3 separate regions of the Homo sapiens genome follow, and all the other regions are linked to region 2. The links come from fine-mapping of genetic effects on gene expression. A gene starts in region 2. Each other region holds a variant in brackets. All regions are shown on one strand. Distances are between the middles of the regions. Region 1 overlaps EYS (eyes shut homolog). Region 2 holds the start of PTP4A1 (protein tyrosine phosphatase 4A1). Region 3 has its middle 32 kb from the start of LGSN.

Region 1 (9,355 bases), 210 kb after region 2:
TCATGATATCATTTCACAGCAGACAACTATTAACATTTTGGTGTGTGTGTGTGTGTGGTATTTTTTCTATGCTTAGTCATATTTTCTTTTAAACAAAAATGCAATCTGCACTAAGCTGTAGAAAATATAATATTATACCAAAAAGTTGAACATCATAAATAACATTAACTTTTTTCTTGTAGCATTAACTATTTTTAAGTGATGGCATATTTTCTTATATCAAAATATATTTAATAAACCTATAATTATTATACCATTGACTTATTTATACTTTTTGCTATTAGAAATAAAATTGTAATGAATATCTTATGTGTATATCTTTGTCCATTTAAATTATTTTTAGTACATATTTCTAGAAGTAGAATTACTAGGGGAAAAGATATAGATGCTTTGAAGTATGCCTAAGTGTCCCCCATAGATCACAACTGGACTCAGGAGACTGGGATACCCCTTTCTTCACAGGCACTACCATGCCTGGGATTACCATTCCATTTCATTTTTACATGCGATAGCTAATAAAATACTATTTTACCGTTTTTGGTTGGGTATCAAAAATCTTTTAACAAATTTATTGGTCATTCATAATTTATATTATAATTTGTATTTATAGTATATAAAGAGAGTCTCCTTATATAATGAGGACATTAGCTATTTGTAATATACGGTAAATAAACTTTCTCCAGTTTAATATTTACCACTCAATTTTGCTATGGTAGTTTTTTTTTTTTTTAGGTAAAGAAGTTTATGTTTATGTTGTCACATTTTTCTCTTTTTTCTTTCAGAGATTTTGCCTTTCTATACATCTTTAGAAAGAACTTCTCGGCCGGGAACGGTGGCTCATGCCTGTAATCCCAGCACTTTGGGAGGCCGAGGCGGGTGGATCACGAGGTCAGGAGATTGAGACCATCCTGGCTAACATGGTGAAACCCCATCTCTATTAAAAATACAATTAGCCGGGCGTGGTGGCGGGTGCCTGTAGTCCCAGCTACTCGGGAGGCTGAGGCAGGAGAATTGTGTGAACTCCAGAGGCAGAGCTTGAAGTGAGCTGAGATCGCGCCACTGCACTCCAGCCTGGGCAACAGAGCGAGAGTCTGTTTCAAAAAAAAAAAAACCAAACAAACAAAAATAACTTTTCTACCCCAAGATTGGATAAATATATGTAAATAAAAAGGACAGTTCAGTGAAAAATTTGAAATGAAAGTGTTTGAAATCCTGAAATGTATTGTAATTTTACTCAGCTCCTTTAGCAGTTACTTATAGTTTATTTGCAAAGTTCTTTCAAATAAATGGGAACATCAACCAGAAATAAGGTCTTTAAAATGATAAAATAAAGGCAAGATTGAATTTTATTTTCAAAACTTTTTTTTGGAGGCATAAAAAGCTTTCTTTTTCTTTTTTTTGTCATTGTTATACTTTAAGTTCTAGGGTACATGTGCATACCTTGCAGGTTTGTTATACTGTATACATGTGCCATGTTGGTGTGCTGCACCCATTAACTCGTCATTTACATTAGGTATTCCTCCTGATGCTATCCCTCCGCACTCCCCCGACCCCATGACAGGCCCCAGTGTGTGATGTTCCCCACCCTGTGTCCAAGTGTTCTCATTGTTCAATTCCCACCTATGAGTGAGAACATGCAGTGTTTGGTTTTCTGTCCTTGGGATAGTATGCTCAGAATGATGGTTTACAGCTTCATCCATGTCCCTACAAAGGACATGAACTCATCCTTTTTTATGGCTGCATAGTATTCCATGGTGTATATGTGCCACATTTTCTTAATCCAGTCTATCATTGATGGGCATTTGGGTTGGTTCCAAGTCTTTGCTATTGTGAATAGTGCTGCAATAAACATACGTGTGCATGTGTCTTTATAGCAGCATGTTTTATAATCCTTTAGGTATATGCCCAGTAATGGGATCGCTGGGTCAAATGGTATTTCTAGTTCTAGATCCTTGAGGAATCCACTCACTGTCTTCCACAATGGTTGAACTAGTTTACAGTACCGCCAACAGTGTAAAAGTGTTCCTATTTCTCCACATCCTCTCCAGCACCTGTTGTTTCCTGATTTTTTAATGATCGGCATTCTAACTGATGTGAGATGGTATCTCATTGTGGTTTTGATTTGCATTTCTCTGATGGCCACTGATGATGAGCATTTTTTCATGTGTCTGTTGGTTGCATAAATGTCTTCTTTTGAGAAGTGTCTGTTCATATCCTTTGCCCAGTTTTTGATAGGGTTGTTTGATTTTTTCTTGTAAATTTGTTTAAGTTTTTTGTAGATTCTGGATATTAGCCTTTTGTCAGATGGGTAGATTGCAAAAATTTTCTCCCATTCTGTAGGTTGCCTGTTCACTCTGATGGTAGTTTCTTTTGCTGTGCAGAAGCTCTTTAGTTTAATTAGATCCCATTTGTCAATTTTGGCTTTTGTTGCCATTGCTTTTGATGTTTTAGACATGAAGTCCTTGCCTATGCCTATGTCCTGAATGGTATTGCCTAGATTTTCTTCTAGGGTTTTTATGGTTTTAGGTCTAACATTTAAGTCTTCAATCCATCTTGAATTAATTTTTGTATAAGGTGTAAGGAAGGAATCCAGTTTCAGCTTTCTACATATGACTAGCCAGTTTTCCCAGAACCATTTATTAAGTAGGGAATCCTTTCCCAATTTCTTGTTTTTATCAGATTTGTCAAAGATCAGATGGTTGTAGATGTGTGCTATTATTTCTGAAGGCTCTGTTCTTTTCCATTGGTCTATATCTCTGTTTTGGTAGCAGTACCATGCTGTTTTGGTTACTGTAGCCTTGTAGTATAGTTTGAAGTCACGTAGCGTGATGCCTCCAGGTTTGTCCTTTTTGCTTAGGATTGTCTGGGCAATATGGGCTCTTTTTTGGTTCCATATGAACTTTAAAGTAGTTTTTTCCAATTTTGTGAAGAAAGTCATTGGTAGCTTGATGGGGATGACATTAAATCTATAAATTACCTTGGGCAGTATGGCCATTTTCATGATATTGATTCTTCCTGTCCATGAGCATGGAATGTTCTTCCATTTGTTTGTGTCCTCTTTTATTTCATTGAGCAGTGGTTTGTAGTTCTCCTTGAAGAGGTCCTTCACATCCCTTGTAAGTTGGATTCCTAGGTATTTTACTCTCTTTGAAGCAATTGTGAATGGGAGTTCACTCATGATTTGGCTCTCTGTTTGTCTGTTATTGGTGTATAGGAATGCTTGTGATTTTTGCACATTAATTTTGTATCCTGAGACTTTGCTGAAGTTGCTTATCAGCTTAAGGAGATTTTGGGCTGAGACAATGGGGTTTTCTAAATATACAATCATGTCATCTGCAAACAGGGACAATCTTACTTCCTCTTTTCCTTATTGAATTCCCTTTCTTTCTTCCTCCTGCCTGATTGCCCTAGCCAGAACTTCCAACAGTATGTTGAATGGGAGTGGTGAGAGAGGGCATCCCTATCTTGTGCCGGTTTTCAAAGGGGATCCTTTCAGTTTTTGCCCATTCAGTATGATATTGGCTGTGGGTTTGTCATAAATAGCTCTTATTATTTTGAGATACATCCCATCAATACCTAGTTTATTGAGAGTTTTTATCATGAAGAGCTGTTGAATTTTGTTAAAAGCCTTTTCTGCATCTATTGAGATAACCATGTGGTTTTTGTTTGTGGTTCTGTTTATATGATGGATTACATTTATTGATTTGTGTATGTTGAACTAGCCTTGCATCCCAGGGATGAAGCCAACTTGATCATGGTGGATAAGCTTTTTGATGTGCTGCTGGATTCAGTTTGCCAGTATTTTATTGAGGATTTTTGCATTGATGTTTATCAAGGATATTGGTCTAAAATTCTCTTTTTGTGTTGTTTCTCTGCCAGGCTTTGGTATCAGGATGATGCTGCCCTCATAAAATGAATTAGGGAAGATTCCCTCTTTTTCTATTGATTGGAATAGTTTCAGAAGGAATGGTGCCAGCTCCTCTTTGTACCTCTGGTGGAATTCAGCTGTGAATCTGTCTGGTCCTGGACTTTTTTGGGTTGGTAGGCTATTAATTATTGCCTCAATTTCAGAGCCTGTTATTGGTCTATTCAGGGATTCAACTTCTTCCTGCTTTAGTCTTGGGAGGATATATGTGTCCAGGAATTTATCCATTTCTTCTAACTTTTCTAGTTTATTTGTGTAGAGGTGTTTATAGTATTCGCTGATGGTAGTTGGTATTTCTGTGGGATCGGTGGTGATATCGCCTTCATCATTTTTTATTGCATCTATTTGATTCTTCTCTCTTTTCTTCTTTATTAGTCTTGCTAGCAGTCTATCCATTTTGTTGATCTTTTCAAAAAACCAGCTTCTGGATTCATTGATTTTTTGAAGGGGTTTTTGTGTCTCTATCTCCTTCAGTTCTGCTCTGATCTTAGTTATTTATTGCCTTCTGCTAGTGTTTGAATGTGTTTGCTCTTGCTTCTCTAGTTCTTTTAATTGTGTTGTTAGGGTGTCAATTTTAGATCTTTCCTGCTTTCTCTTGTTGGCATTTAGCCAACCATTTGACTGACTAGGTACCAAATAAGTAATAGCTTTTTTTTTTAAACTGCAGTATAGCTTTTTTTTTTTTTATCCTGGGTTTCTAAATTATTGCAGTAAACTGATTACATTTTCCCATATGGGCTCTTCTTTGAAGAATCTCATATGATTAAAAAAAGGAGAGAGAAAAAAATTGAACTCACAAGAAACCGAAAGTACTGACCGTGTTGGCTATTTTTAGATGAGAATAACTCTCATTTACAGGGTTGTTAATAAATCTGAATCTATCTCATGTCCACTCT[A/G]TTCAGAGTAGTAAATATTTAATAACCTCCATATCAATGAGCAGTAGTTGCTGTAACACTAGAAGCTTATTTCCTGTTCATGTAAAGTCCAAAGGGTGGTTAGGGTTGGCATCCAGGTGAGTTGGCAAACAGAGTACAGGACTGTGCAGAAGATTTTCATAGGCAAGGCCTGGAAGTAGCAACTATTACACCTGCTGACATCTCACTGGCCAGAACTCAGGCACATGGTCATGCATAGCTGTAAGAGAGTCTGGGAAAGATCTGGTGGTAACAACATGTCACAAGCATGTATTATGTGAAAGCACCATTCCAGGTGCTGTGGAGATCTGTTATCAGTAAAAACTAAAAATCCTATTCTCCAGAAGCTTACTAAATTCTAAATTAAGACATACATTCTCTAGGTATATAATTATATTAGGTATGAAATGCTAAGTGGGAAAAGACTTGGTGCTCCAAAGACTTCAGAAAGAGCTCACTCTCAATGAGTGAGCTCAGAGAGTGGGCTCTCATTGAGGAGGTGTGATTTGAGCTTGCTTTCCAGGCAAATGGAATTTGAAGAGGTGGAGAATGCTGATTTAAGCACGGGCCCTGAGGCAGGGAAAATAAGACATACAGAGAGGCAGTGGCTAGATATAGTGATAGTTGATTTTATGTGCCAACCTGACTTGGCCATGGGGTGCCCAGATACTTGGTCAAATATTGTGTGTGTGTGTGTGTGTTAGGATGAGATTAACACTTGAATTGATAAACTGGGTAAAGCAGATTGCCCTCCCTAATGTGGGTGGGCCTCATTCAATCACTGAAGACCTAAATGGAACAAAAAAGAGGGAATTCTTCCTGCCTGATTACTTGAGCTGGGACATTGGTCTTTTCCAGCCTTCGTACTTGGACTGAAACATTGGCTTTTCTTGGGTCTTGAGCCTGATGGCTTTCAGACTGGAACTCACACCACTTGCTCTCCTTGTTCTTAGGGTTTCAGACTCAGGCTGGAGCTACACATCAATTATCCTGGGTCTCCAGGTTGCTGACTGTGGATTTTGGGACTTCTCAGCTTCCATAATCATGTGACCCAATTCCTTATTAAAAATCTCTCTCTCTCTCTCTCTGTGCACACCTGATTGGTTCTGTTTCTCTGGAGATGCCTGACTAATACAGATAGATTTTATTGAATTAAAAAATCAGTGGAAGCGAGTTAAGTATAGAAAAAATACATGGGTTTTGGAATGTCAGGGGTGTTAGTCCATTCTCACATTGCTGTAACTTACTACCTGAAACTGGGTAATTTATAAAGAAAAGAGATTTAATTGGCTCATGGTTTCACAGGCCATGCAGGAACCATGGCTGGGGAGGTCTCAGGAAACTTACAGTCATGATGGAAGGTGAAGAGGAAGGAGGTATGTCTTACATGGCTGGAGCAGGAGGAAAAGAGTGAAGGGGGGTGATACACACTATTAAACAACCAGATCTCATGAGAACGCACTATCACAAGAACAGCAAGGGGGAAATCTACCCCCATGATCCAAACACCTCCCACTTGGCCCCTCCTCCAGCACTGGAGATCACAATTTGACATGACATTTGGGCAGGAACACAAATCCAAACCATATCACCATGTAAAAAATTCAGTTATTATTCTAGAGTTGACAGGGTGTCTGTTGCGTTCTAGAGCAGGAAAATGGTATAATTCATTAGCATGGCAATAGGGTTATGATGTGTCAGTTAATCAGGGAAGGGTGAGTAGTCAAAGATGACAGTAAGCCTGTCATTCTAACTTCAGTTGCATCAGAATCACCTGAAGAGCTCATTAAAATACATATTACTGGGCCCCATTCCCTGAGTTTCTGGTTCAATTACAATTTGCATCTCTAACAAACTTCCCAGTGATGCTGATATTGCTGACCCAGGGACCACATTTTGAGAACCACTGTACAAAGGATTCAAACAAGTATTAGAGGGACTGGTAGCAATAGTAAAAGAAATAAGTAAAGAAGTATATTCAGAAAAGGCATTTGTGGTGAAGATGAGATGTTTCACTTCAGTTATTCTGCTTCTATAGCTGCCTTTAGCACAATTAACAGCTCAGCAAGATTATCTACAGGCAACAGAACTTCTAGTGAAAGGACCCAGCTTATTTTCACTTGTGGCCTAACCAGTTTTACTTGTTTCTTCCCCTTATTCCTCCTTTCCCTTCTTCCATATCTTCTTGTCTTCCTTCCTTCATTCCGTGCCCAGTCTGAGACCACCATTCATGAGCCTCATTCTGAGAACTCTGCAGCTTTGTAGCAGATGCAACTTTGGAAAGCAGAGGAGAGGAGAACTGATCTTATTAGGGCAGATAAAACAGTAAGGCACAGCGTATTTGGCAGATGTAGATTATTTAAGGTGGTTAGTCTCAATACCTTTATGAGCATTAAAGGTCATAGAAAAAATAATGGTTCATTATAAGCCATTTTTTAGAACAAAAACAAATGTGCTTTATTAGCAGTAAGGATTTATATTTTAGATCACGAACTTTGGATTAGAGTTATTTATCAAGAGTTTATAGGAATCGGCTGGGCACGGTGGCTCAAGCCTGCAATCCCAGCACTTTGGGAGGCCGAGGCAGGCGGATGGCTTGAGCCCAGGATTTCAAGACCATCCTGGGCAACCTGGAAAATCCCTGTCTCTAATAAAAATACAAAAATTAACTGGGTGTGATGATGCAGTTCTCAAGTTCATGGATAGTAGGCCAGACCTGGTTGAGTGACTGAGAACACTATAAGAACAGACCTTTGACCAAGTACCCTGGGACTAGGATCTACCAAAAAGCTATCTTCACCAAATGAATTGTTATTACAATTTAAAGCATGTCTTTATTTTATAACTCTACTACAATATAAATCAGCTTTGTAAGGATATGTTAGCTGGGTTTAGTGGCTCAGCTACATGAGAGGCTAAGGTGGGAGGATTGATTGAGCCCTGGAGATGAAGGTTGCAGTGAGCTGAGATGGCACCACTGTACTCCAGCCTTGATGACACAGCGAGACTCAAAAAAAAAAAAAAAAAAAGGTAAAGTAAAATAAAAATAAAGAGTTTATAAAAATGTAAAAGCCTAGATCAGATAATATTTTATTGCATTATTTAATTGTAATTCTAAGGACAAATGTGATATCCTTACTCCAACTATTAAATTCTTTCAGAAAATTCCATTTGCTTTGCTTCGTTATGATTAATTAATGTGGTGGCTTCCACATCATTCTCAGCAAATTAACCCAGGAACAGAAAATGAAACACCTCATGTTCTCACTCATAAGTGGGAGTTGAACAATGAAAATGCACGGACACAGGGAGGGGAACATCACATACCGGGGCCTGTCAAGGGGTGGGGGGCAAGGGGAGGGAGAGCCTTAGGACAAATACCTAATGCATGCAGGGCTTAAAACCTAGATGATGGGTTGATGAGTGTAGCAAACCACCATGACACATGTATACTATGTAACAAACCTGCACATTCTGCACTTGTATCCTAGAACTTAAAGTTAAAAAAAAAAAGAGATAATTTAAAAAATATATGGTGGCTTCCAAATCTGGGAGGCTTGTTAAAATGCAAATTTTTAGATCCCACTGTAAAGATTTCAATTCAATAGTTCTTGGGTAGGGTTCAGAAATCTGTGTTTTTAAGAAGTTATCCTATATTATTCTTCAGAACCAGTAGAGATCAGCTTTGGGAACCATGGATTTATGGTACAGTTGCAATTTGGTTGTCCTGGTAAGTTGGTAACAATACGCCATGATTTATAATAAATAGTAAATGCTAGTTTAGAGTGGAGGGAAGGCAGACATTAAGAGAGGATCCAAGAGAAGAATGATAAAATTAGGGGATCTCAAGGTCCTGAATTTTCTATAAGACTGTGGCATAAGTGGCAATTTCCAAGAAGACTTGCCCAAGATTCCCATACTCACTAAAGACTGTGGCAGTTGACATACTTCCAGGAGTGTGCAATCTTAATGTTTCTGTAAGAGAAAGGGCCAGCTCTGTGTGTGCTGATCTCATTTGAACACGGAACTATTTGAACACAGGAAGACAGACTGTGGCAATAAGATTGCTCACCCAAGCACAATGTTGTCCTTAATCCTCTTGGCTTGCTCTGGCCTCTGTGGGCTACCCCTTGGTGGTATGGATGGGTTGACTGCAGTCTGTCTCTTGCCTTTTGAACTTCAAAGTTAGATGGACTTTCAATTTTTACTGTGACTCTTTGAAGTCTACCCTGCTCAGCCTATTTTAAAAAGCACCCTGTATAAACAATTACCCATAATCCTGATTCCTTTAAATCATGCTCTCCATTTCCCTTTTCCCATTGAACTTATCACATTATATGACTATATAATTAACTAATTACATTTAGTGTTTATCTCTCCAACTAGTTATAAGTGCAGAAATCTTTGATTTGTTCATTAAAACATCCTAAACATCTAGTACATATGTAGTAAGTGGTCAATAAATAGTAAATGAGGCTGGGCATGGCCTGTAATCCCAGCACTTTGGGAGGCCAAG
Region 2 (11,423 bases):
TACACTACATTGTTGTCTGTTAAATGTGCATAGCACTATGTCTAAAAAATGTACATACCTGTTTTGTCCCACTGAACCCATAGCTGGAGTTGCCTTAAAAGCAGCAGCAGGAGAATTCGTACAACAGAGTACCCCAAACCATTTGAAGACAGGGCTGGTTTGAGATTTCAAAGAAAGCAGCTCTAAATGCCAGAGTGATCAGTCCAAAACATTTATTAAAGGAACTTGCAGGGTGTTGCAATGTATTATTGTGATGGACAGCAAGAGAAAAGGGATGTTTTACCCACATTAGTCTGTAGCCAGGGGGTGAGGGGATGGAGTTTACATGAAAATTTAAGGAATTCGGCTCAGGGTCGGGGTCAGTTTCTTTCCAGTAAACCAAGACATTATTATCAGTGCCTGGGAATGTTCAAGCTGGTTTGGGTTCAAGCCAGCTGAGGAAAACCTATGGCTACAGCTGGCTGGGTCACTGTGATTTTGGTCAAGACACAGAAAGGAAGTGGGGAAAACGGGTACCCTAGAATACCTTAATTTAAAAATACTTTTGCTAAAAAATGCTAACAGTCATCTGAGCCTTCAGCAAGTCATAATCTTTGCTGTTGGAGAATCCTGCCTCAGTGATGATGGCAGCTGACTGATCAGGGAGGTAGTTGCTGAAGGTTAAGGTGGCTGTGGCAATTTCTTGAAATAAGACAATGGAGTTTGCTGCATTGATGACTCCACAAAAAATTTCTCTGTAGCAGGCAGTGCTGTTTGATAGTATTTTACACACAAGAGAACTCCTTTCAAAGTTGCAATCAGTCCTCTTAAAACTCACCCACTGCTTTATCAGCTAAGTTTATGTGATATTCTAAATCCTTTATCATTTCAACAATGCTTACGGCATCTTCACCAGCAGTAGATTCTATCTCAAGAAACCACTCTCTTTTCTCCTTCATAAGAAGCAACTCCTCATTCATTCAAGTTTGATCATAAAATTGCAGCGATTTAGTCAACTCTTCAGACTCTGTTTCTAACTCCAATTGTCTTGCTATTTTCACCATATTTGTAGTGATTTCCTCCACTGAAGTCTTGAACGCCCTCAAGGTCATCCATGAGAGTTGGAGTTAACTTCTTTCAAACTCCTGTTCATGCTGATACTTTTACCTCCTCTCATGAATGTTCTTAATGGCATCTAGAATCCTTTCCAGAATGTTTTTGGTTTACTTTGCTTAGATCCATCAGAGGAATCACCATCTACAGCAATTTATAACCTTATGAAATGTACTTGTTAAATATTAAAACCTGAAAGTCAAAATTATTCCTTGATCCATGGGTTGCAGAATGGATGCTGTGTTAGAAGGCATGAAAACAATATTACTCTCCTTGTACATCTCCATCAGAGCATTTCAGTGACCATGTGCATTGTCAAGGAGCAATAGTATTTTTAAATAAATCACGTTTTATCAGTAGGTCTCAACAGTGGACTTAAAATATTTAGTGAGCCATGCTAAACAGATGTGCTGTCAACCAGGTTTTGTTCTTCCACTTATAGAGCACAGCAGAGTAGATTTAGCATAATTTTTAAGGGTCCTAGGATTTTCAGAATGGTAAATGAACATCTGCTTCAACTTAAAGTCACCAGCCACATCAGCCCCTAACAAGAGAACTGCCTGTCCTTCGAAGCTTTGAAGCCAAGCATTGACTTCTATAGCTATGAAAGTCTTGGACAGCATCTTCTTCCAGTATAAGACTGTTTTGTCTACATTGAAAATCTGTTATTTAGTGTAGCCACCTTCATCAATGTTCTTGGCTAAATCTTCTCAATAACTTGCTGCAGCTTCTCCATCAGCACTTACTGCTTCACCTTTCATTTTTATGTTAGGGAGAGGGCTTCTACTCTTAAACCTCATGAATCCACCTCTGCTATCTTCAGACTTTTCTTCTACAACTTCCTCACCTCTCTCAGCCTTCATAAAAATGAAGAGAGTTAAGGCCTTGCTCTGAATTAGGCTTTGACTTAAGAGAATGCTGTGGCTGGTTTTCTATCCAGAACTCTAAAACTTTCTCCTTATCAACAATGAGGCTGTTTCACTTTCTTATCATTCCTGTGTTCACTGGAGTGGCACTTTTAACTTCCTTCAAGAGCTTTTCCTTGGCATTCACAACTTGACTGTTTTGGGTATGAGGCCTAGTTTTCGGCCTATCTCTGCTTTCAACTTGCCTTACTCAGCTTAATCATTTTTAGCTTTGATTTAAAGTGAGAGATGAATGACTCTTCCTTTCACTTGAACACTCAGAGGCCACTGTAGGGTTATTAATTGGCCTAATTTCAGTATTGCTGTGTCTCACTGAGGGACTGGCCCATCAGCGGAGCAGTCAGAATATATTCAACATTTATCAAATAAGTTTGCCATCTTAAATGGGTACAGTTTGTGGTGGCCCAAAACAATTCCAATAACAATATCAAAGATCACTGTTCACAAATTGCCATAACAAATGCAATAATAATTTAAAAGTTTGAAATATTGGGAGAATTACCAAGATGTAACACAGAGACATGAAATGAGCACATGCTATTGGAAAAATGGCTCTGATAGACTTGCTCGACAAAAAGCTGTCACAAACCATCATTTTGTTAAAAAAAAAAAACAATATTTGCAAAGCACAATAAATGAAGGTATGCCTGTATACTACATATTTATTTTTAATAATCATATAAGAAAATTAATTGGATATAAAATAGGCTGTTCTAAAACAGCAAGAGGGAAATAAACTTTAACAATGCTGACAGCAGCCATGGCATACTTGAATTTTTAGGACTCTTGTTAAATATGGGTATGGGAACTTACCCTCTGCACTAGTATCCAGACACTTACTAGATTATGGCCCATTGGGGTATTTGCCTCTATTACATATATTTGCTAGACTGTCATTATACCTTGCAATCTAGTGTCTTTTTCTAGGTTGATATTGTCACGTTTAATCTATTATGGCAATGATATTACTCTTGCTATGTTAAATGTTTTTATCAGACTTCCTTGTAGCCCCAACCAATCTGAGAAGATTGAAAATCAAGGAATCCTTCACTCCTTTTGTAAACTTGGTAAAATGGAATCAATGTTTACTAGATCTGCTGTTCTTGTGAAGATTTCTCTGTTCTTCTTCATCAAGATTTGCCAATCTTCCTCTGCACTCTTGCCTTCTGCAGTCTTTCCTCTTCCATAAAAATATCGCTTATAATATTCTTTTTTTGAAATGAAGTCTCACTCTGTCTCCCAGGCTAGAGTGCAGTGCCATGATCTCGGCTCACTGCAGCCTCTGCCTCCCAGCTTTCCAGTGATTCTCCTTCTTCAGCCTCCCAAGTAACTGGGATTAGAGGTGCCTGCCACCATGCCCAGCTAATTTTTTGTATTTTTAGTAGAGATGGGTTTCACCATGTTGACCAGGCTGGTCTTGAACTCCTAACTCCTAATCTCAGGTGATCCACCCACCTTGGTCTCCCAAAGTACTGGGATTACAGGCATGAGCCTGTATGCCACCATGCTCAACTTCCTTATAATATTCTTCTAGTCTTATTTCCCAACTGCTGGCTTTTATATTTTGAATTGTCAATAGAAAGCCCTGCCTATCGTGATGAGGTTAAGGACACATGTTTTGCTGAGAGAAGTAACTTCCAGCTGAGAATCTTGTTTAGCAGGAGAGAAAATCCTCTATTTTAGAGCCTCTCCTGGAGCTTAGAGTAAGCATTGGCTTTTAGAGGTGTTTTCTCCCTTTTTGATGTCTGGAAGCACTATTTTCAAGTCTGTTAGAGACCCACTTTAAATAAGTACAGGTGCTAATGCTCTGAGTGCAAGTCTGTAAGGGTTAGTGAGTCCTCAAATCACAGAAGTCTCCTGACCAATGCTGGGATGTTCTACTGTTCTCCAAGAATCTGCAGCTTAAAAGTATTAAACTAAATACAGCAGACACCCTCAGCATAGCAGTGAACCACAATGGCAGCTGACAAGCAGGAACATTTAATGGATTGGTCAGCAAGACCACACTTATATCTTGTTTAAAATGTGTCCTTTCCTTTGGGAGACTGAGGCAGGCAGATCTCTTGAGGTCAGGAGTTCAAAACTAGCCTAGTCAACATGGAGTTTTCTAAAAGTACAAACAAATTAGCCAGGTGTGGTGGCAGGTGGCTGTAATCCCAGCTACTTGGGAGGCTGAGGCAGGAGAATTGCTGGAACCCAGGAGGCTGAGGTTGCAGTGAGCAAAGATTGCACCACTGTGCTCCAACCTGGGCAAAAGAGCAAGACTCCATCTCAAATAAATACATAAAATAAAATGCATCGTTTCTCTCAACAGCAAAAGCCTTATTTTTTCATCCTTTAAATATGTTACTTTCATAGTAGGATAAGATGGTACCTTGTCTGAGAGGCTAAGACCCCCAGGCCACTTGAGAATTTGAGAGCTTTTAGAACTTGATGAGCATAGCTGACTGGATACTTCGTGTCAGCACTGCTTGTGGTAATTACAGGATCTGTGGATCACAAGGCTCACAACTTGTATCACAAGTTCTACAAGAAAATTGGCTAACACATATTTGGCTCTGTTAATCATTTGCTGAGTTTATATCTTGTCCCACCAAATGTATTTTTTGAAATGCCATTACATGAAAAAGTTTCACTATTCCAATTATCTGTGTTTACCAACTTGTGGAGTAAGAGTGGCTGACTGAATATGTGCTTTTTAACTACACTATTATATACATTGGCCAAGCTTTTTATATTAACCCTACCCATGAAGTATCACCAATATTTCCCCCAGTGTGAAATTGACATTTGTCAAAAGCCTTTTGCCATATAAAAGTTTTTAGTTCTTATATATGAAATCTGTCCCTTTTTTTCGACATGAGTTCCCCAGCCTGCTTAGCTTTGCCCCTACCACCCAAGATTTTTAAGCTTTCTATATTTTCTTAGAATTTAAGATTTTAAAGTCTTTACTTTTTTAAATCATTTATTTGTAAAGGGACATATTTCTCAAGTGTGCTAGTTTTCCTTGATTTTAATGGATTAAAATGTGTCGTAGGTGAGCCATTTTCTTCCAAATGACGAAGAGTTTTTGTTCCTTTGAAAGTCTGGCCCAGGATTTTGTTTGTTTTTGTTTTTTTAAAGTTCTTATTTTACTTACAGAGTTAAGAAAGTTGAATAACTATACAACCAGTCTCTAAATAGAAGTTCTAATAAATCCTAAGATGTTGCAGGGCACTGAAAGAGGACAAAATTTGATCCCTAAAGCCCTCTCCAATCTCATACTCGGTGAAAATAACAAACAAAAGGCTTCAGTGTTAGTGGAAAACTGAGTTCTTAAAAAGCAGGTAAAGGTCCTGTTTGGTCCTTCTCCAGAGCTGAGGAGAAAGGGTTTTCAGATTATAAATAACAGAGGTGCCCTTGTATGGCACAGAATTGCGATAAGACTTTACTTCTTAGGGGCTTAAATAATGAAGTCAGTAAAAGAGGACTGAAAACGAACATAAAGAAGAGCTTTAGCTTTGACGCAAAGAATTACATCAGTGCTTGACAAAACCGAGGATTCTTAATTTCTAAAAACGCTTTCTTTAAGCACTTCCTAACCTTTCATTATCTGAGACAACATATCAAGTGAGCAGCAGTACAAAGGATGCATGTGATTTCGAAATGCCACAATTGAGCCAACTGCAGTTGCACGCGTACGTAGTATAGAGAGGTGTGATCAAAAAAAGAATATAGGGAGCATAGGGCTTCGTCTGCATCAAAAGATACTCTCCCCATCTTCTATAGCCTTAAGTTTTGCGAAGGTAAGTTTCTCCCCGCTTGAAAGCGCCCCCAGGGACAAGAATTCATCTTGACCAAGCCTAAGGCCGTGGCATGCAAGGTGTTGAGTCACCGGGTACAGCGGTCTTGCGACATAAATATTATTTGATGACGAAGGTACTCGGGGCCCAGGTGCCAAGGTAAACCACTGGCAAAGATGACCGTGGTTAAGGCAGTAGAAAGCAGGCTCGACACTGAGACGCGGTTCCAGCCCTAGAAGGATTGCATTTTACGATTCAGGCAAACTTCGAGTCTCCTCATGTGACATGTGTGCACTCCTGGACCGTTTTAATTATGAGAAACGTGGTTTGCAGCATGATTCCTTCCAGTCGATAAATCGGAATCTCTCTCGCTCCCACCCCTTCTTAACTTCAGGCTTCCTGCATCCCGGAGCACTCCCGGCAGCCCCTTCCCTCCCCCGCCCCGGGGATGCTCCGACTCGGCGCTTAGCCATTCATCAACCGGTTCACACCGGCGGCGGCCGCCGCGGAGTGACGTCCGGAGGGGGCGGGCCTCCGCCCCCGCCTGTCGGCTCCTGGCCCGCGGTTCCAGGCCGCGATTGGTGGCTGGAGGGTTGCACGTCGCGCCGGCTATAAAGGGGAGGGCTTGTGACGCAAGGGCGCCTCGGCGCGTGTATTGGCTCCTTCGGCTGCGGGCCGGCTCGGCTACGCGCTCTGCTCCGAGCCGCTCACTGCATGGTAGAGTCTGGTGCCCCCGCCGCCGCCTGCATCGCCGCCACCGCCGCTCCGCCACGACCACCGCCGCCTCCTGCCCTGCAGCCACCGCCACCGCCTGTGTCGCCGCCGCCTCGGGACCGGCTGTATGATTAGGCCACAATCTTCAATGAGTAAACATATTCCTGTGAGTAGCCGTCGCATCGTCGCCTCTCGGGCTGGGAATCCACGACCGGCCCCCCATCCCCGCTGTCGCCTTTGTTCGGAGCCCGGCGTCTCCTCCAGGTTGCCCCGGGTTGCGGTTCCGGTGGGTCCCGGGTGGGAGCGGGCGGGTTATGGCCCTGTGGCCGGCCGATTGCGGCCGGCTGTGCGGAGGCAGATGCCGGGCCCCTCGGGGCTGCGGGGTGGCGGTTGGCCGCCGGAGGCACCGGCTTTTGAGTCCCTCCCGAGCCCGGAGCGACGGGGGCGGCGCGGTCCGGCTTCTGCGGCGGCCGGGGGCAGTTTCGGCTTCCGCAGCGGGCCGGGTGGGTGGCACAAAAGCCGCTTTGTGACCGCCGCCTCCGCCCTTGGCCCTTTGGTCTGGCGCGACCCGTCCGGGCATGGCAGGCTCCGCGGCGTCCCGGGGCCTCTTTGTTCGGCCGGAGGAGAGTGGCTGCACTGGGAGCGGGAGACGTGGCCCGGGGTGGGGCGAGGGCTGCGCGTGTCACTGCGGAGCCGGATACGGGGAGGGCGCGGCGGTGGCGGGTTCGCCTCCAGATCCGGGCGGGCGTGGGGTAGGCCGGACAGCCAGGCACGGGTGGTAACGATCTGGTTCCAGAGCTTCTCGGAGCTCCGGGGTGGGCGCGGGACAGCCACTGGGTGCAGCTACACTCTTGTGCTCGACGGCCGGGACCCGAGCCTCAGACAAAATGGCCTCGGCGCCCGCGCCTGACTGAAGGCGCGGCGCGAACCCGTGATTGCGGCGCGGAGAGGGGGCGCAGCGGGCGTGCTCGGGCGCACACAGCCGCGTGCGCGGGGCGGCGGCCCTCTGGGGCATTCCGCGAGCTGCACCCCTGCCCGGGCCAGAGTGGGGTTCTGCTAGGTGAGAACTTCGGCCGTCCGCCCCGCCCTCCTCCCAGGCTCCACCTGGTAATTCGAGCTGTTCCGGATTTATCGCCCCACCTCGGGCTCGTGATAATGGGAACAAGTCTAGTCTTGTCCTTTCTCTGGGCCAGTCGTCGAGAAATGGCCTGGTTCGGAGCGTCTTGGAAACTGACAGGGCTACTGTTAGTTACACTGACGCGAAGGACTTCCCGTCCGGGCACCAGCATACATTTCCCCTGCCAATTTTGGAAGGGCCCTGGATGGCGCCTTTTAATCGGGGACTGTTTAGAACTATCCCTGAGCTCTGTGGTGTAATATGTTGTTGCCTCCTGTTGGTTTGTGGCAGCAGTAGCCAACCAGAGACGGAATTCTGAGGGTTTTTTATCTTCTGTCCGCGGAGCCCCCTACCAGTCCACGAGTATTAAGTTATTTACACTACGATTGGAACTGTTGACCTGCCCGACATCTAGATCCTGAGGCAGTGCTTCCTGTTACTCAGTCAGTTGAAAACTAGAAAACTAAATCATTCCCAAGAGTGAGCAGCATTTTACACATGCTTTCTTAGGTGCCCTAAGACCTAAATAGATGTGGAACAGACTATACAACGAATTGTTTGTGACAAAGGAGTTACACACATTAATTGGCTTGACTCTGCAGTATAATAATGATTTAAGCTTCTGCACAGAGATTACTCTTTCCTCCTCTCCCTTCTTGTATATGATTGTGATTATAATGCAACTGATAGGTGGGAGGGAAAAAATCCCCATTATGGATAGTTTTTCCTGTGGGTAGGAGATTGGGAATGGAGGAGTGTCTTGGGCGGAACAGAAATCTATCGGTGGCCACCACTGCTTTAACAGACGAGTCCCCCCATCCACTAGGTGGCTCCACTCAGTAAAAATAACCATTTCAGGAAGGGAATTCTTAATATAGTTCTTTCTCTGCTTCCTGATGAAAGTGCTTACTTACATGAAGGGATATGGCCAGACTAGGTTGTAGCCGACAGGAGTTTTAGCTATTAAATATGGAAATAGTGGTGTGAAATACTGCCTCAAATTAGCTTTTAATTGAAAAAAAGGTAATACCTAGAAATTAGAATACTGTGATGAGTCATTATAAAGCTTTTAAAGATCATTGTATGTCATTGGGAAAGTGTCAGAATACACTTTTTATTCTACGGAGGTTGTATTTAGAATTTGGGGTGAAAGTATAATGAAATTATTTTCAGATTACTACAATCTGTATTCACTGTAACTGTGATGGCTTTGTAATTTAGACACTTAATTTTTTAACCCAGCTGACCAACTAGGTGAAGTAACCTCTGAGGGCTTGTTTGAACAAACTTGTGATAATGAAAGTTACCTTTTTTATGGGACCTTTTGATAAATGATTGTTAATGCTAGTTGTATGTTTTACCAGAAAAGTAGACTGGGTTTTTGACTTGATGTTTTCTGCAGTAATCATCATAAGAATTATTCTTCAAAATTTAGCAAAGTTCTAGAAACTATAACTAGCATGGGACTATTTAAAGGTGTAAAATGGAAATGGGAGCAGATCGTTTGAATTTTAATTTTAAGACTTCAAATGCTTAAATTTAAGCATGGAAACTAATGGAACCTTTTGTTAAAACACTTTGGTAATGAGAGTACACATGAAGTGCTTGAGGCAGTGACTATGAATTACTGCTCTTGTTAACCTGTTATTAATACTTTCCTTAGTGCCCTCTTTACTCCCGAGTACACAAGTACCTTATAAACTATTTGGAAGAAGACTGATTATTAACATCAGTGTCTTCCATGTACATATTTTAAAAATATGCTGTGACTATTGGTTTAATGTTTGATATTGGCATAAAAATGGTTTAGTTCTTAAGGGGGAACTTAGAGAAAATATAAATACATTCATATTTGTTTATATTTATTGGTTACAGTAGTTACCTTGCTTTTGAGACCTGCCACTTCCACCTTCAACATCCCTTTGTCCGCCTTCTCTGAGTTGGATTTCAGTTTTGAGTTGTATATGTGAAATTTTGGTTTTAAAATACAAAAGAACATTATTAAAATTATGAATATTTTCTTTACAGTTATAAATGAGAGTTGTTTCCTTTTTAGATTCATAAGCATACATTCTTATGATATTTCACATAACAAGTTGATTTTCAGAGACTCATTTTCCTCGTCTTCAGTTTAATGGGAATGATAACAGATTGTTAAGGATAAAGTGAGATTCTAAATATAGGACTTAAATCAGTCTAAGAAAAGGATATAAAAGCATAAAGTTGGAAAAGAACTTAGATGTTTCAGTTTATGAGTTAAGTAAATTATGCAAGACTAATAACTTCAGAGTTATCTGGAGTTTGTATTAATGTGTAAAAATGTTTTTGTTAGTTGGAAAAATCAACATAAAGTGTATGTAATTACAATGTAAAGAAAACAACTATCGAAAGGGATAATTATTAGAATCATATAATTATATATTATATATAGATAGTATATATACAGAGAATATAACTAGATAGAATATATATGAATATATATATGAATTTCACAAAAATGTAACAATGGGTTTGGTTTTTTTTTCTGAGGAATCTTGGTAATAGATCATGGATTTCAGTTTAATCTATCTGACTGCTTGTTTTATGCTGATTGATTTAATCTGTACTCACCCCTTGAGTTTTGCAATTCAAGTAAAAGTCGATGAAGCGGCTCAGGCCCTGCTTTAGAAAAATAGTTGTGTACTTAAATAGTGTAAAACCCTAATGTATTTCTTTTGAATTGGAAAATAACTTATTCTCTCTTTCTGTCTTTTTCTTTTAAACAGCAATTCTGTGGTGTTCTTGGTCACACATTTATGGAGTTTCTGAAGGGCAGTGGAGATTACTGCCAGGCACAGCACGACCTCTATGCAGACAAGTGAACTGTAGAAACTGATTACTGCTCCACCAAGAAGCCCCCATAAGAGTGGTTATCCTGGACACAGAAGTGTTGAATTGAAATCCACAGAGCATTTTACAAGAGTTCTGACCTGGATGGGGTAAACCTCAGTGCACTTCTTTTCTGTTGGCCTCAGTATTACTGGATTGAAGAATTGCTGCTTCTTGTTAGGAGGTTCATTTCACTTATCATTACTTACAACTTCATACTCAAAGCACTGAGAATTTCAAGTGGAGTATATTGAAGTAGACTTCAGTTTCTTTGCATCATTTCTGTATTCAATTTTTTTAATTATTTCATAACCCTATTGAGTGTTTTTTAACTAAATTAACATGGCTCGAATGAACCGCCCAGCTCCTGTGGAAGTCACATACAAGAACATGAGATTTCTTATTACACACAATCCAACCAATGCGACCTTAAACAAATTTATAGAGGTAAGATTTGATATGTTTTAGTAGCTTAAATTGATTGCAATATAATAGTGGGACTTATAGCTAACAAAATAAAAACTACTTTGGAAAAAATGAGATGATATACCTACAATTCCAGTTCCCAGAAATAAATGTCAATGTCTTCTATAGGTTAGAGGTATATTTGTACATTTTGAGAAGGGCATGTGCTTGAGTTAATAGTTATTGTACCTGAGTTTGCTTGAATTGGTATGTGGACAGTAAAACAGTATAGCTCTTACTTATCTTGTAAGAAATTTACATGGGAAAGGTTGCCATTTATGGATTTTTTATATATCTGCTTAACCTAATGACTAATGCCATAAACCAGTTGGTTTTTCTTGAACCCCATCTGATGCTTAGAATCCAATTTTCAACTACAAATTCTGTTCCTTCCTAATGGTAGCTATGTAGCCAAAACTCTACCTGCCTCTTTTTACTAGGAGAAAGGAATTGAATGCT
Region 3 (11,423 bases), 220 kb before region 2:
CTGGCTGTTCATCTGTATCTTTTATAATATCCTTTATAATAAACTGGCAAAAAAAAGTAAAGTGCTTTCCTGAGTTCTGTGAGCCACTCTAGTAAATGATTAAATGATTTAACCTAAGGAGGGAGTCATGTGAATCCCAATTCATAGCCAGCCGGTCAGAAGTTCCCAGATTGCAGTTGGCCTCTGAAGTGGGGGCAATCCTGTGAGACTGAGCCCTTAACCTATAGGATGTGACTCTAACTCTAGGTAGATATTACCAGAACTGAATTGAATTATAGGCCTGGAACTTTCGAGCTCACCCCACCATCCTTTTGAAAGAGGAGAGAAGCTGGAGATTGAGTTAATGCTCGGTCATGCCTTCTTGAAAAAGCCTCCATAAAAATCCCTAAACAATGAATTGGGAGACCTATGGACTGCTGAACACATGGAGAAGCTGAGAGGGGTAGCATCTCCTGGCGAAGTATGAAAGTTCCAGTCTTCAAATCATGGCTTAGTCTTTCTGGTTACCAGCCTCCATTCAGATGCCCACCAAAAGTTGCCTCATTAGAACAAGAGGCACTCCTATCATCCAGGAAATTTCAAGGGATTGGAAGCTCTGTGCCACCAGAGACACCCAGTTGATGTTTGCTGGAGAATTAGTATGTGGGGAAAAATAAATCCTACCCATCTGGTGTCAGAAGTGAGGAACTGAGAATGAGTGGTGAGTAGGAGAGGGAAAAACAATTCATGGGGCAAATCTTACTTCATTATTTCTTTTCAAAATTTCTTAGTTTTATGTATTTTTCCTTACTGATTAATTTTAAAACCAGTCTTTTTTAAAACAAAAAAAAGAACTCCAAAGTACTTTGAATTTGCATTAACTAAATATTTGGGGGAAATTGACATTTTTACAATTTGGAGGGTTATAATAATATGGTTTACTATTGATTTAGGTCTTCTTTGTGCTCTTCAGTTAAGTTATAAGGTCTAATTTACTGTTCAGACATATAATTTCAAGGTCTATGACTTTCCTGCTTCAGTGTCTTTTCTAATCCATCATTATTCCATCAGTTCATTCACTCATTCATTCTTTCATTCATTCATTTGTTTTCCAAGATGGCTTTTTCCAGTATGCTTAAAAGGCTAGAGAGGTCTCTAAGATAAGGAACTGCTTATCTTACAGTGACACATTTCATGAAATAAGATAACTGATGCCAAAGTCTTTTGAAAATTTGGAAAATTACCACGTAAATATCTGTTCCATTCTTATACTCAATTAGTCACTAAGTGAAAACATGTAAGCTGAATCTCACAATGACTAATGTTTCTGCAGCCTGCTTAAATAAGCGGTAACTTATTTAAAAATCCAAAATGCTTGCTAAGTCATATATGACTCATACAGCAGAGTCCATTAGTCAGGAATGACTTGTAGGGAAATATTCCTAATATTAGAAAAAGGTTAATTGTGTGAATAAGAAAATAAGATATAAGATCAAGTCTGCTTCTAGCTCTTGAAAATTTTCTTAAAATTGGAGGAGAAACTCCTTTCTCCAAGTAAGAAAAAAACAAATAAAACCACTGATTTATAACAAAAGAAAGCATAAATAAGCTAGTCATTCAATATTAGCCAAGAGCTGAAGAATATAGTCTAACGTAAATACAGCAGCTCAGGAGACAATGACCTTGAAAACTAGCAGCCACAAAAGAAAGAACAGACTAATATAAAAGTATGGACTGGGAGGCAGAAATGGGCAGATCACCTGAGGTCAGGAGTTCGAGACCAGCCTGGTCAACATGGCAAAACCCCGTCTTTACTAAAAACACAAAAATTAGCTGGGAGCTGTGGCGCATGCCTGTAATCCCAGCTACTCGGGAGGCTGAGGAAGGAGAATTGCTTGAATCCAGGAGGCGGAGGTTTCAGTGAGCCGAGATCACACCACTGCACTCCAGCCTGGGCGACAGAGTTAGACTCTGTCTCAAAAGAAAAAAAAAAATATATGGAAATGTAATTAAGCATTCACAATGCAGGTCTACGAGCTCTTGGTGCGCATGGCATTCTAGTTTCTATTTTGATTTTTTAGTTAACGGCTCAACAAATATTTTGGAACATATCATCTCTACAAGGCACTAGTAGATGTTGAAGAGAGACAACATCTTATTGCACATCTGGCCTACAGTAATCTGTGTTTGGTAGGAGTCATGGAGCATTATTTAGTATCTTAACCCAAAGTAGGATACTAACTACACTAGAAATGAAGATTTTTACTTTTTTTTTTTTTTTTTTTGCTTTTTTAAAATAGAGGTGGGGTCTTGCTGTGTTGCCCGGGCTGGTCTCGAAATCTTGGCCTGAAGCAATCCTCCTGCCTCGCCTTCCTAAAGCACTGAGATTACAGGCATGAGCCACCACACCTGGCCAGAAGTATAGATTTTTAAAACTACGTAGTAAAGGCTTTCAAAGGGGAACAAGTTAATGCAAAGTTCTTTGGAAGAGTTAGCATTGGAATGCAGCCTTCAAGCAATCGAGAATTGTTCCTGTAAAGTTGAAGATAAGGAAAAGGGGGCAGAAGTCAAAGCACTGAGCTTACTGTGCACAGAAAAACAAGGTGAATACTCAATTTAATGATGCATGAAGAAAGGAAGAGAAACAGGAGTCCTTTAGACCTTGATTTTCAAAGAGCTTCTTACATGCCATAGGCTGCCCTCAAACTTTTGGTTGTTTTGTTGTTATTGACTTAAGTAAGATAATAAACTTAATCAGAACTGTGCTTTGGAATGATTCATTAAGAAGCCACTCTGTAATGTAAATTGTGAGAGTATTAAGGCAGAGACTGGAGACTGGGGGCTAAATTAGGAAATATTTGTAGCTGATGAGAAACATGGTTGGTAGAATTCTAAAAAGGCCCCTAAATTCCCAACCCTTGGTGCAAAAACACCTTCTCCTAGGTATTCAATCAAACATTAATCTAGGTGTTGCTGTGAAAAGATTTGTGATGTGGCTATGGCCTCAAATCAGTTAAGGTTGAGAAACATTCTAAGAAAGTCTGACCTAATCACAAACCCTTTAATCTGTGTTTAGAGGTCAGCAACAGGGAAGTTGGAGAGATTCAAACTATGATTGCAATTCGACAAGGGAGAGTTTTTCCACCACGGGCTTTGAAGATGGAGAGGACCACATGGCAAAGAATGCAGATGGCCTCTGGAAGCTGAAAGTGCCCTTGGCCAACAACCAGCAAGGAAACAGGAACCAGAGTCTTACAATAAAAAGGGCTTAAAATAACACAAATTTATGATAGCACAGCTTCTGTAGATGAGATGTACTAACGACGTGATTGAGTTCTGTGCTCAAGTTATCATAAGACTGAAATCAAGGTGTTGGGTAGGCTGAGTCCTTCTACGGAGACTGGGAACAATCCACTTCTCAACGCATTCTGGTGGCATTTAGGGATAAGCTGGTTTATCCAGGCCAGCTTCACAGAAGATGAATATAGTTCCATTTCAGTTATTAGAGACCTACCCAAAGATTTAGAAGAATGTTTGATTATTTGAAAGCATTTTAAAACTATTCATTCAACAAGGAAAAGTTGAAAAAGAGTTCAGTACCTATCATGTAAATTATTAAGGTTGGTGCAGAAGTAATTAGCAAAAACCGCAAATACTTTTGCACCAACCTAATAATTAACTCATGAGGAATGGTAAAAGTGAGTAAGCTTTTTAGTTAAGAAAACTGGATTTATAGAGTTATTCTAGCTGTGTTCTATTCAATTATTACCTTGATTTCTTTCATTCTTTCTTTGGTTATAATATGAAAGCAATTACTATATTAATTATTTCACAGGGTTGTTAGTAGGACCAAATTTATTAAAATATACAAAGGACTTCACAAACTGGAAAATATTTTACAGATTTGTAATTATAATTATTACTGGATCTAGTCATAGTTATTTGTCTGCAAACCATAAATTATCTCAGTGCATTCAAATTAACCTGGTTGTGAAGATTTAAAATTTTTTACTTTATTTCCAGTTTTAATAAACAGCATACTGAAAATAGTGCCACAGGCACATCATAAAACTAACTACAAAGTAAACAGTTCAGGCCAGGGGTGGTGGCTCACGCCTATAATCCCAGCACTTTGGGAGGCCAAGGTGGGTGGATCACCTGAGGTCAGAAGTTCCAGACCAGCCTGGCCAACATGGTGAAACGCTCTCTCTACTAAAAATACAAAAATTAGCTGGACATGGCAGCGCACACCTGTAATCTCAGCTATTCAGGAGGCTGAGGCAAGAGAATCACTTGAACCTGTGGGGCAGAGGTTACGGTGAGCTGAGATGGTGCCACTTCACTCCAGCCTGGGCCACAGAGCCATCTAAAAAAAAAAAAACAAACAAACAAAAACGAGTTCAGACGACCAATTGGTAAGTAAAACAATTGGTTTTTTATCCTAATAAAAAAGAATTTGCCATTCAATCACTAACATCCAAAACTATTTACAGTGCTATATTCTGAATATTTGTGTCTCTTCCACCCAAATTCATATGTGGAAATGTTAACCCCCAAGGTTAACATAAGAGGTGGGTCCTTTGAGAGGCGATTAGGTTATCAGAATGGAACCCTCACAAATGGGATTAGTGTCTTTATAAAAGAGACCCCAGAAAGATCCCTTCCCATTTCTACCATGTGAGGTTACTGTGAGAAAACCCTGTCTGTGAGGAAGCAGACCCTCACCAGACACCAAAGCTACCAGTGTCTTGTTCTGGGACTTCTCAAACTTCAGAACTGTGAGAAATACATTTCTGATATTTATCTGCCACCCAGTTTATGGTGCTTTCTAATAGCAGCCTGAAAAGATTAAGACAAAAGGAAGGAAAAAAAGCAGATATTTGCTTTATAAATATCTCTGTGTGTGTGTGTGTATGTGTGTCTGTGTGTGTCTGTGTGTGTGAGAGAGAGAGAGAGAGGAAGAGAGAGAGAGAGAGAGACAGAGAAAGAGAGACAGAAACAGAGACAGAGTCTCACTCTGCCACCTAGGCTGGAGTGTAGTGGTGCGATTTCAGCTCACTGCAACCTCTGCCTCCCAGGTTCAAGTGATTCTTGTGCCTCAGCTTCAAGCAGCTGGGATTACAGGTGCCCGCCACCATGCCAGGCTAATTTTTTGTATTTTTAGTAGAGACGGGGTCTTCCTATGTTGGCCACTCTGGTCTCGAATTCCTAGCCTCAAGTGAACCACCCACCTCGGCCTCCCAAAGGGCTAAGATTACAGATATGAGCCTCCACACTCAGCCTAAATATCTTAAATATGAATGTCAAAATAAAACTAACAGCAATCTAATGATCTTGACCACTTTGATTTACATGGAGACTAATAATTTTTTAAATGATGTTTCAATGACATATACTGTATAGTCTTTTTAAACCTGAGACTGATTTACTGTTTCAATATATCAGAGAACATTTAAAGAAAATTGTGTCATTGCCTCAGGATTTTCCAATGTATAAAGAAAGAATTTCTTGTAATGACCTCGTAGATATGGTACTTAAGAGTAAGTAACAAATAGACAAATAATTTTAAAACAAGAAATGGTTGAGACAGAAATGACCTTCCTGGAAAATAAATGCAATTAGAAAAAAGACTATTGTTACATGAAATGAATTATATGAAGGATGTTTCTAGGCAAACAGTAGGTGGCAACATCTACACAGACTTGTTTTAGAAATGCTTGTATAACATCAAAACAAAACTTACAAGCTAATGATTCATGAAATAGGGAATTTTCCAAAACTCACATGTTAGTAGAGATATTTATGCGCAAATCCATTGTTTTGTATTCTTTCTATTTTGGAATGTCATGCTTATGCCTTATCACAAGGACTCCACTAAGATCAATAATCTTAAAAATGTTTTGTTTGGCCAGGTGTAGTGACTAACGCCTAGAATCCCAGCACTTTGGGAGGCTGAGGCAGGATTGCTTGAACCAAGAATTTCGGGACCAGCTCTGGCAATATAGAGAGTCTCCATCTCTACAAAAAATACGAAAATTCACCAGGTGTGGTGGTACATGCCTGTGGTCCCAGCTACTTAAGAGGCTGAGGCGGGAAGATTGCTTGAACCTGGGACATCAAGGCTTCACTGAGCCATGATCACACCACCGCACTCCAGTCTGTCTCTCTCTCTCTCTCTTCCTCTCTCTCTCTCTCACACACACACAGACACACACACACACACACACACAGACACACAGTTTTATTTGTGGGTTATGTTAGAGACTGTTCATCTGTCTCTCAAACAAAGGGATAGAATTTTGTTCCCCTCACATTTCTTGGCCAGATTAGGTGGTTGAATTAGATAAGAGTAAGGATTAAGGGAACCATGCAAACAGCTGGATTTTTTTTTAATGCCACAATATGACCTCAATTACTGGAGTTCACAGAAGTTGCAGAAGACACATCCGGTGGTCAAGAAAAGGGGAAGCTGCCTTAAGTTTCCTTTTCTCTTGTGAGCGCAACAACCTCCATCTGTCTTTCTCTGTAACGCTGAAGACAGACACGTGACCCTGGTTCTCACAGAAGAACTTTCAAATCTAAAAAGCCATTTTAGGAAATAATTGGAAAAGTCTCTGTAGCCTTTGAGCTCCAGGATATTTGTTTTCCAGAATGATGAGATTGGTTATTGAATGTTTTAATGGTTGGAAACCAGAGAGTAGCTTTAGAGGCAAGCAGAGGCGCTGCTTTTTAACAGCAGAGGTCAGTAACACCAAAGG[G/A]GAAGGAAATTGAGCAGTCTGGCCAGAAATTGCAGATTTCTGTTGCAGACCCAACAGGCAAGAGGCAATAGGCAACATCCTGAGACACACAGGAAAACCTGATCCTTAGTACCTAACAGGGTCTCCTGTGCAGAAAATGTTCCCATCCCTGGCAACAGTGCCTTCCTGGATATGCTCACAGATGTTTAAGACTCTCCCTACCAGAGAAATAGCTTCTATCACAGAGTATTTTGTAGGGAACCATAACAGAACGTAAGGTGAAGTTTTCTACTATACTCTTATAATTATTGAAATTTTTCCTACTTCATTAATACCTGGACTTAGATTTCTCTTTTAGAAAGAAGCAGTTTGTAGCAAAAAAAAAAAAAAAAAAAGAAAAAATAATGTTTTTCACAGAAATTGAAAAAACAATCTCAAAATTTGCATGAAACCAAAAAAGAGCCTGAGTAGCCAAAGCAGTCCTCAGCAAAAAGAACAAAGCTGCAGACATCACACCACCTGACTTCAAAATATATTACAAGGTTATAGTAACCAAAGCATCATTACAGTGATACAAAAACTGACACATAGACCAATGAAACAGAATAGAGAACCTGGAAATAAGTCTACATATAAGGCAACTGATTTTTTTTATAAAGTTGCCAAGAATATACATTGGGAAAAGGGACACCGTCTTCAATAAATGGTGCTAAGAATACTGGATATTTATACACAGAAGAATGAAACTAGACCCCTATCTCTCACTACATATAAAAATCAACTCAAAACGGATTAGACTTAAACATGAGACCTCAAACTATAAAACTACTAGGGAAAAAACCTAGAGAAAACACTTTAGGGCATTGGTCTAGGCAAAGACTTTATGGCTAAGACCTCAAAAGTACAGGTAACAAAAATAAAAATAGACAATGGTACCATATTAAACTAAAAAGCTTCTGCACAACAAAGAAAACCATCAATATCATGAAAACACAGCCTGCTGAATGGGAGAAAATATTTGCAAACTGCTTGTCTGACAAGGGACTGATATCCAAAATACATAAGGAACTCAAACAGCAAAAAAAATAAATAAATAATCCCTTTAAAAAGTGGGCAAGAGGTCTGAATAACATTTCTTGGACGAAGACACACAAATGGCCAGCAAATACATGAAAAAATGTTCAACGTCACTAATCATCAGGGAAATGTAAATTAAAACCAAAATGAGATACCATCTTACCCCAGTTAGAATAGTTATTATTAAAAAGACAAAAATATAACAGATGCTGGTGAGGATGCAAAGAAAAGGTAACTCTTGTACACTGTTGATGGGAATGTAAATTAGTACAGCCACTATGGAAGCAGTATGGCGATTTCTCAAAAAAACTAAAAATAGAAATACCATATGATCTATCACTACTGGGCAATTATCCAAAGGAAAGGAATCAGTATGTTGAAGAGACATCTGCGCTCACATATTTATTCCAGCACTATTCACAACAGCAAAGACAGAGAATCAACCTGTGTTCATCAACAGATGATTAAAGAAAATATGATACATATACACAATGGAATACTATTTAGCCATAAAAAAGAATGAGATAATACCATTTGCAGCAACATTGATGGAAGTGGAGATCATTATGTTAAGTGAAATAATCCAGACCCAGAAAAACAAATATTGCATGTTCTCACTCATATATGGGAGAAAAAAAAAAAGTTGATCTCTTGGATGTACAGAGTAAAATGACAATTACTAACGACTAGGAAGGGTATGGGTGTGGGTGTGGGTGTAGGGGAGGAAAAAGAAAGAATAGTTTCTAAAGTTCCATAGCAAAGAAGGGTGACTACAGTAAACAACAATGTATTGTATAGTTCAAAATAGCTACACAGAGGACTTGAAATGTTCCCAACACATAAAAATGATAAATGGAAAAGGTGATGTGTATCCTAAATACCCTGACTTGATGGTTACACATTCTATGCATATAACAAAATATCACATGTACCCTACAAATACATACAAATATTATGTATCAATTTAAAAAAAAATGAAAAATAAAATATCCCTACATTCTCTTGGCAAATATGTATTGAGTGCTGGGCACTGTTCTAAGTACTTGGGGCACAAAAGTGAAGAAAATGTACTTTGTCTCTTTCCTCATGGTAATTAGTCTAGTAGAGGCAGGCAGAAATTGAACAACAAAAAGAGTACATCCTATGCCAGGTGGTGTATTCATTTCTTTGGGCTGCCATAACCAAGTACTGTAAACTGGGTAACTTAAAACAACAGAAATTTATTGTGTCATTAATTCTTATGGCTGGAAGTTCAATCAAAGTGTCCACAGAGCCATGCTGTCTCTGAAACCTGGAGGAAAATCTTTCCTGGCCTTTCTCTCGCTTCTAGTCGTTTGCTGGCAATCTTTGGCATTCCTTGGCTTGTAGATGCATCACTCCAGTACTCTGTCTTTTTGTTTTGTTTTGAGACGGAGTTTCACTCTTGATGCACAGGCTGTTGTGCAATGGTGCAATCTTGGCTCACCACAACCTCTGCCTCCCAGGTACAAGCAATTCTCCTGTCTCAGCCTTCCAAGTAGCTTGGATTACAACATGTGCCACCATGCCTGGCTAATATTTTTTGTATTTAGTGGAGACGGGGTTTCACCATGTTACTCATGCTGGTTGTGAACTCCTGACCTCAGGTGACCCACCCACCTTGACCTTCCAATGTGCTGGTATTACAGGCGTGAGCCACTGGACCTCGCCAGTACTCTGTCTTCACATGGTGTTATTCCTGTATCTGTTCACATATTCTTCCTTCTACGCACATCTATATATATATGTCCAAATTTCCCCTTTTTATAAGGACACCGGTTATATTGCACTAGGGCCCACCCTAATAATCTCATCTTGACTACATCTGCAAACACTGTATTTAAAAATAAGATCACATTCTGAGATCCTGAAGGTTAGGACTTCAAGTTATCGTTTTGGGGAAAAACAATTCAACTCATAGTCCACATTTAAAAAAATAATAATAAAGCAGGCCAGGCACAGTGGCTCATGCCTATAATCCCAGCACTTTGGGAGGCTAAGGCAGGAAGATCACGTGAAGTCAGGAGTTCGAGACCAGCCTGAACAACATGATGAAACCCCATCTCTACTAAAAAAATACAAAAATTAGCTGGGTGTGGTGGCTCGTGCCTGTGATCCCAGCTACTCGGGAGGCTGAGGTGGGAGAATCGCTTGAACCTGAGAGGCAGAGGTTGCAGTGAGCTGATATCATGCCACTGCACTCCACCCTGGGCGACAAGAGCAAAACTCTGTCTCAAAAAGTTAAAAAATAAGAAAAATAAAAATAAAGCAGAGTAAAAGAAATAAAAGTAACAGTCAAGAGATGAGGCATGTTTAGGTAAGGTAGTCAAAGATGTGACATTTGGATAGAGAAGGTAAGATGTGAACAGACACTGAGGAATTGTGCCATGCATATACCTAGGAGAAGAGATATCTTCTCCTGAAAATATAGGATGTTAAGTGCCAAAACTGCAACATGACCAATTGTCTTCCAATCTTTAAAGCATCTTTATGGTTACAAAGAAATGTAAGTTAAAATCACAACCCCCAATTTTTTTTTATACTTTAAGTTTTAGGGTACATGTACACAACGTGCAGGTTTGTTACATATATATACATGTGCCATGTTGGTATGCTGCACCCATTAACTCGTCATTTAACATTAGTTATATCTCCTAATGCCATCCCTCCCCCCTCCCCCCACCCCACAACAGGCCCCGGTGTGTGATGTTCCCCTTCCCGTGTCCATGTGTTCTCATTGTTCAATTCCCACCTATGAGTGAGAACATGCGGTGTTTGGTTTTTTGTCCTTGCGATAGTTTGCTGAGAATGCTGGTTTCCAGCTTCATCCATATCCCTGCAAAGGACATGAACTCATCATTTTTTTATGGCTGCATAGTATTCCATGGTGTATATGTGCCACATTTTCTTAATCCACTCTATCATTGTTGGACATTTGGGCTGGTTCCAAGACTTTGCTATTGTGAATACTGCCTCAGTGAACATATGTGTGCATGTGTCTTTATAGCAGCATGATTTATAATCCTTTGGGTGTATACCCAGTAATGGGATGGCTGGGTCAAATGGTATTTCTAGTTCTAGATCCCTGAAGAATTGCCACACTGACTTCCACAATGTTCGAAGTAGTTTACAGTCCCACCAACAGTGTAAAGTGTTCCTATTTCTCCACATCCTCTCCAGCACCTGTTGTTTCCTGACTTTTTAATGATCGCCATTCTAACTAGTGTGAGATGGTATCTCATTGTGGTTTTTATTTGCATTTCTCTGATGGCCACTGATGATGAACATTTTTTCATGTGTCTTTTGGCTGCATAAATGTCTTCTTTTGAGAAGTGTCTATTCATATCCTTTGCCCACTTGTTGATGGGGTTGTTTGTTTTTTTCTTGTAAATTTGTTTGAGTTCATTGTAGATTCTGGATATTAGCCCTTTGTCAGATAAGTAGGTTGCGAAAATTTTCTCCCATACTGTAGGTTGCCTGTTCACTCTGATGGTAGTTTCTTTTGCTGTGCAGAAGCTCTTTAGTTTAATTAGATCCCATTTGTTAATTTTGGCTTTTGTTGCCATTGCTTTTGGTGTTTTAGACATGAAGTCCTTGCCCATGCCTATGTCC

What was found. PIP is the estimated chance that this variant, and not a neighbour inherited with it, causes the effect.
Region 1: its variant is fine-mapped to the expression of PTP4A1 in whole blood (TOPMed, PIP above 0.99).
Region 3: its variant is fine-mapped to the expression of PTP4A1 in whole blood (TOPMed, PIP above 0.99).

Annotation. Positions count from the first base shown.
Region 1 is chr6:63,778,356-63,787,710 of GRCh38, forward strand. The region is part of intron 39 of EYS (eyes shut homolog); the gene reads right to left. Among named protein-coding and RNA genes, the nearest start is that of SCAT8, 24 kb to the right of the region's middle. The variant A/G (reference allele first, on the strand shown) is at 4,822.
Region 2 is chr6:63,566,040-63,577,462 of GRCh38, forward strand. PTP4A1 (protein tyrosine phosphatase 4A1) reads left to right here and starts at 6,441. Exons shown (of 6, transcript NM_003463.5): 1 at 6,441-6,680; 2 at 10,397-10,946. The coding sequence starts at 10,842. It overlaps LOC124901228 (translation initiation factor IF-2-like), which reads right to left and starts at 7,529. Exons shown (of 2, transcript XM_047419610.1): 1 at 7,493-7,529; 2 at 196-7,391. The coding sequence starts at 7,529. The coding sequence ends at 6,646. LOC128125822 reads left to right here and starts at 6,441. Exons shown (of 2, transcript NM_001415059.2): 1 at 6,441-6,680; 2 at 10,397-11,423. The coding sequence starts at 6,642. The coding sequence ends at 10,492. It also overlaps a transcript of LGSN not described here. RefSeq lists enhancers at 5,427-6,164, 6,165-6,900, 6,225-6,519, 6,901-7,636, 7,573-7,942 and 1 more and silencers at 6,183-6,602, 6,903-7,032.
Region 3 is chr6:63,346,497-63,357,919 of GRCh38, forward strand. It overlaps a transcript of LGSN not described here. Among named protein-coding and RNA genes, the nearest start is that of LGSN, 32 kb to the left of the region's middle. RefSeq lists enhancers at 635-1,834, 6,107-6,216, 6,287-6,556, 6,657-6,746. The variant G/A (reference allele first, on the strand shown) is at 6,738.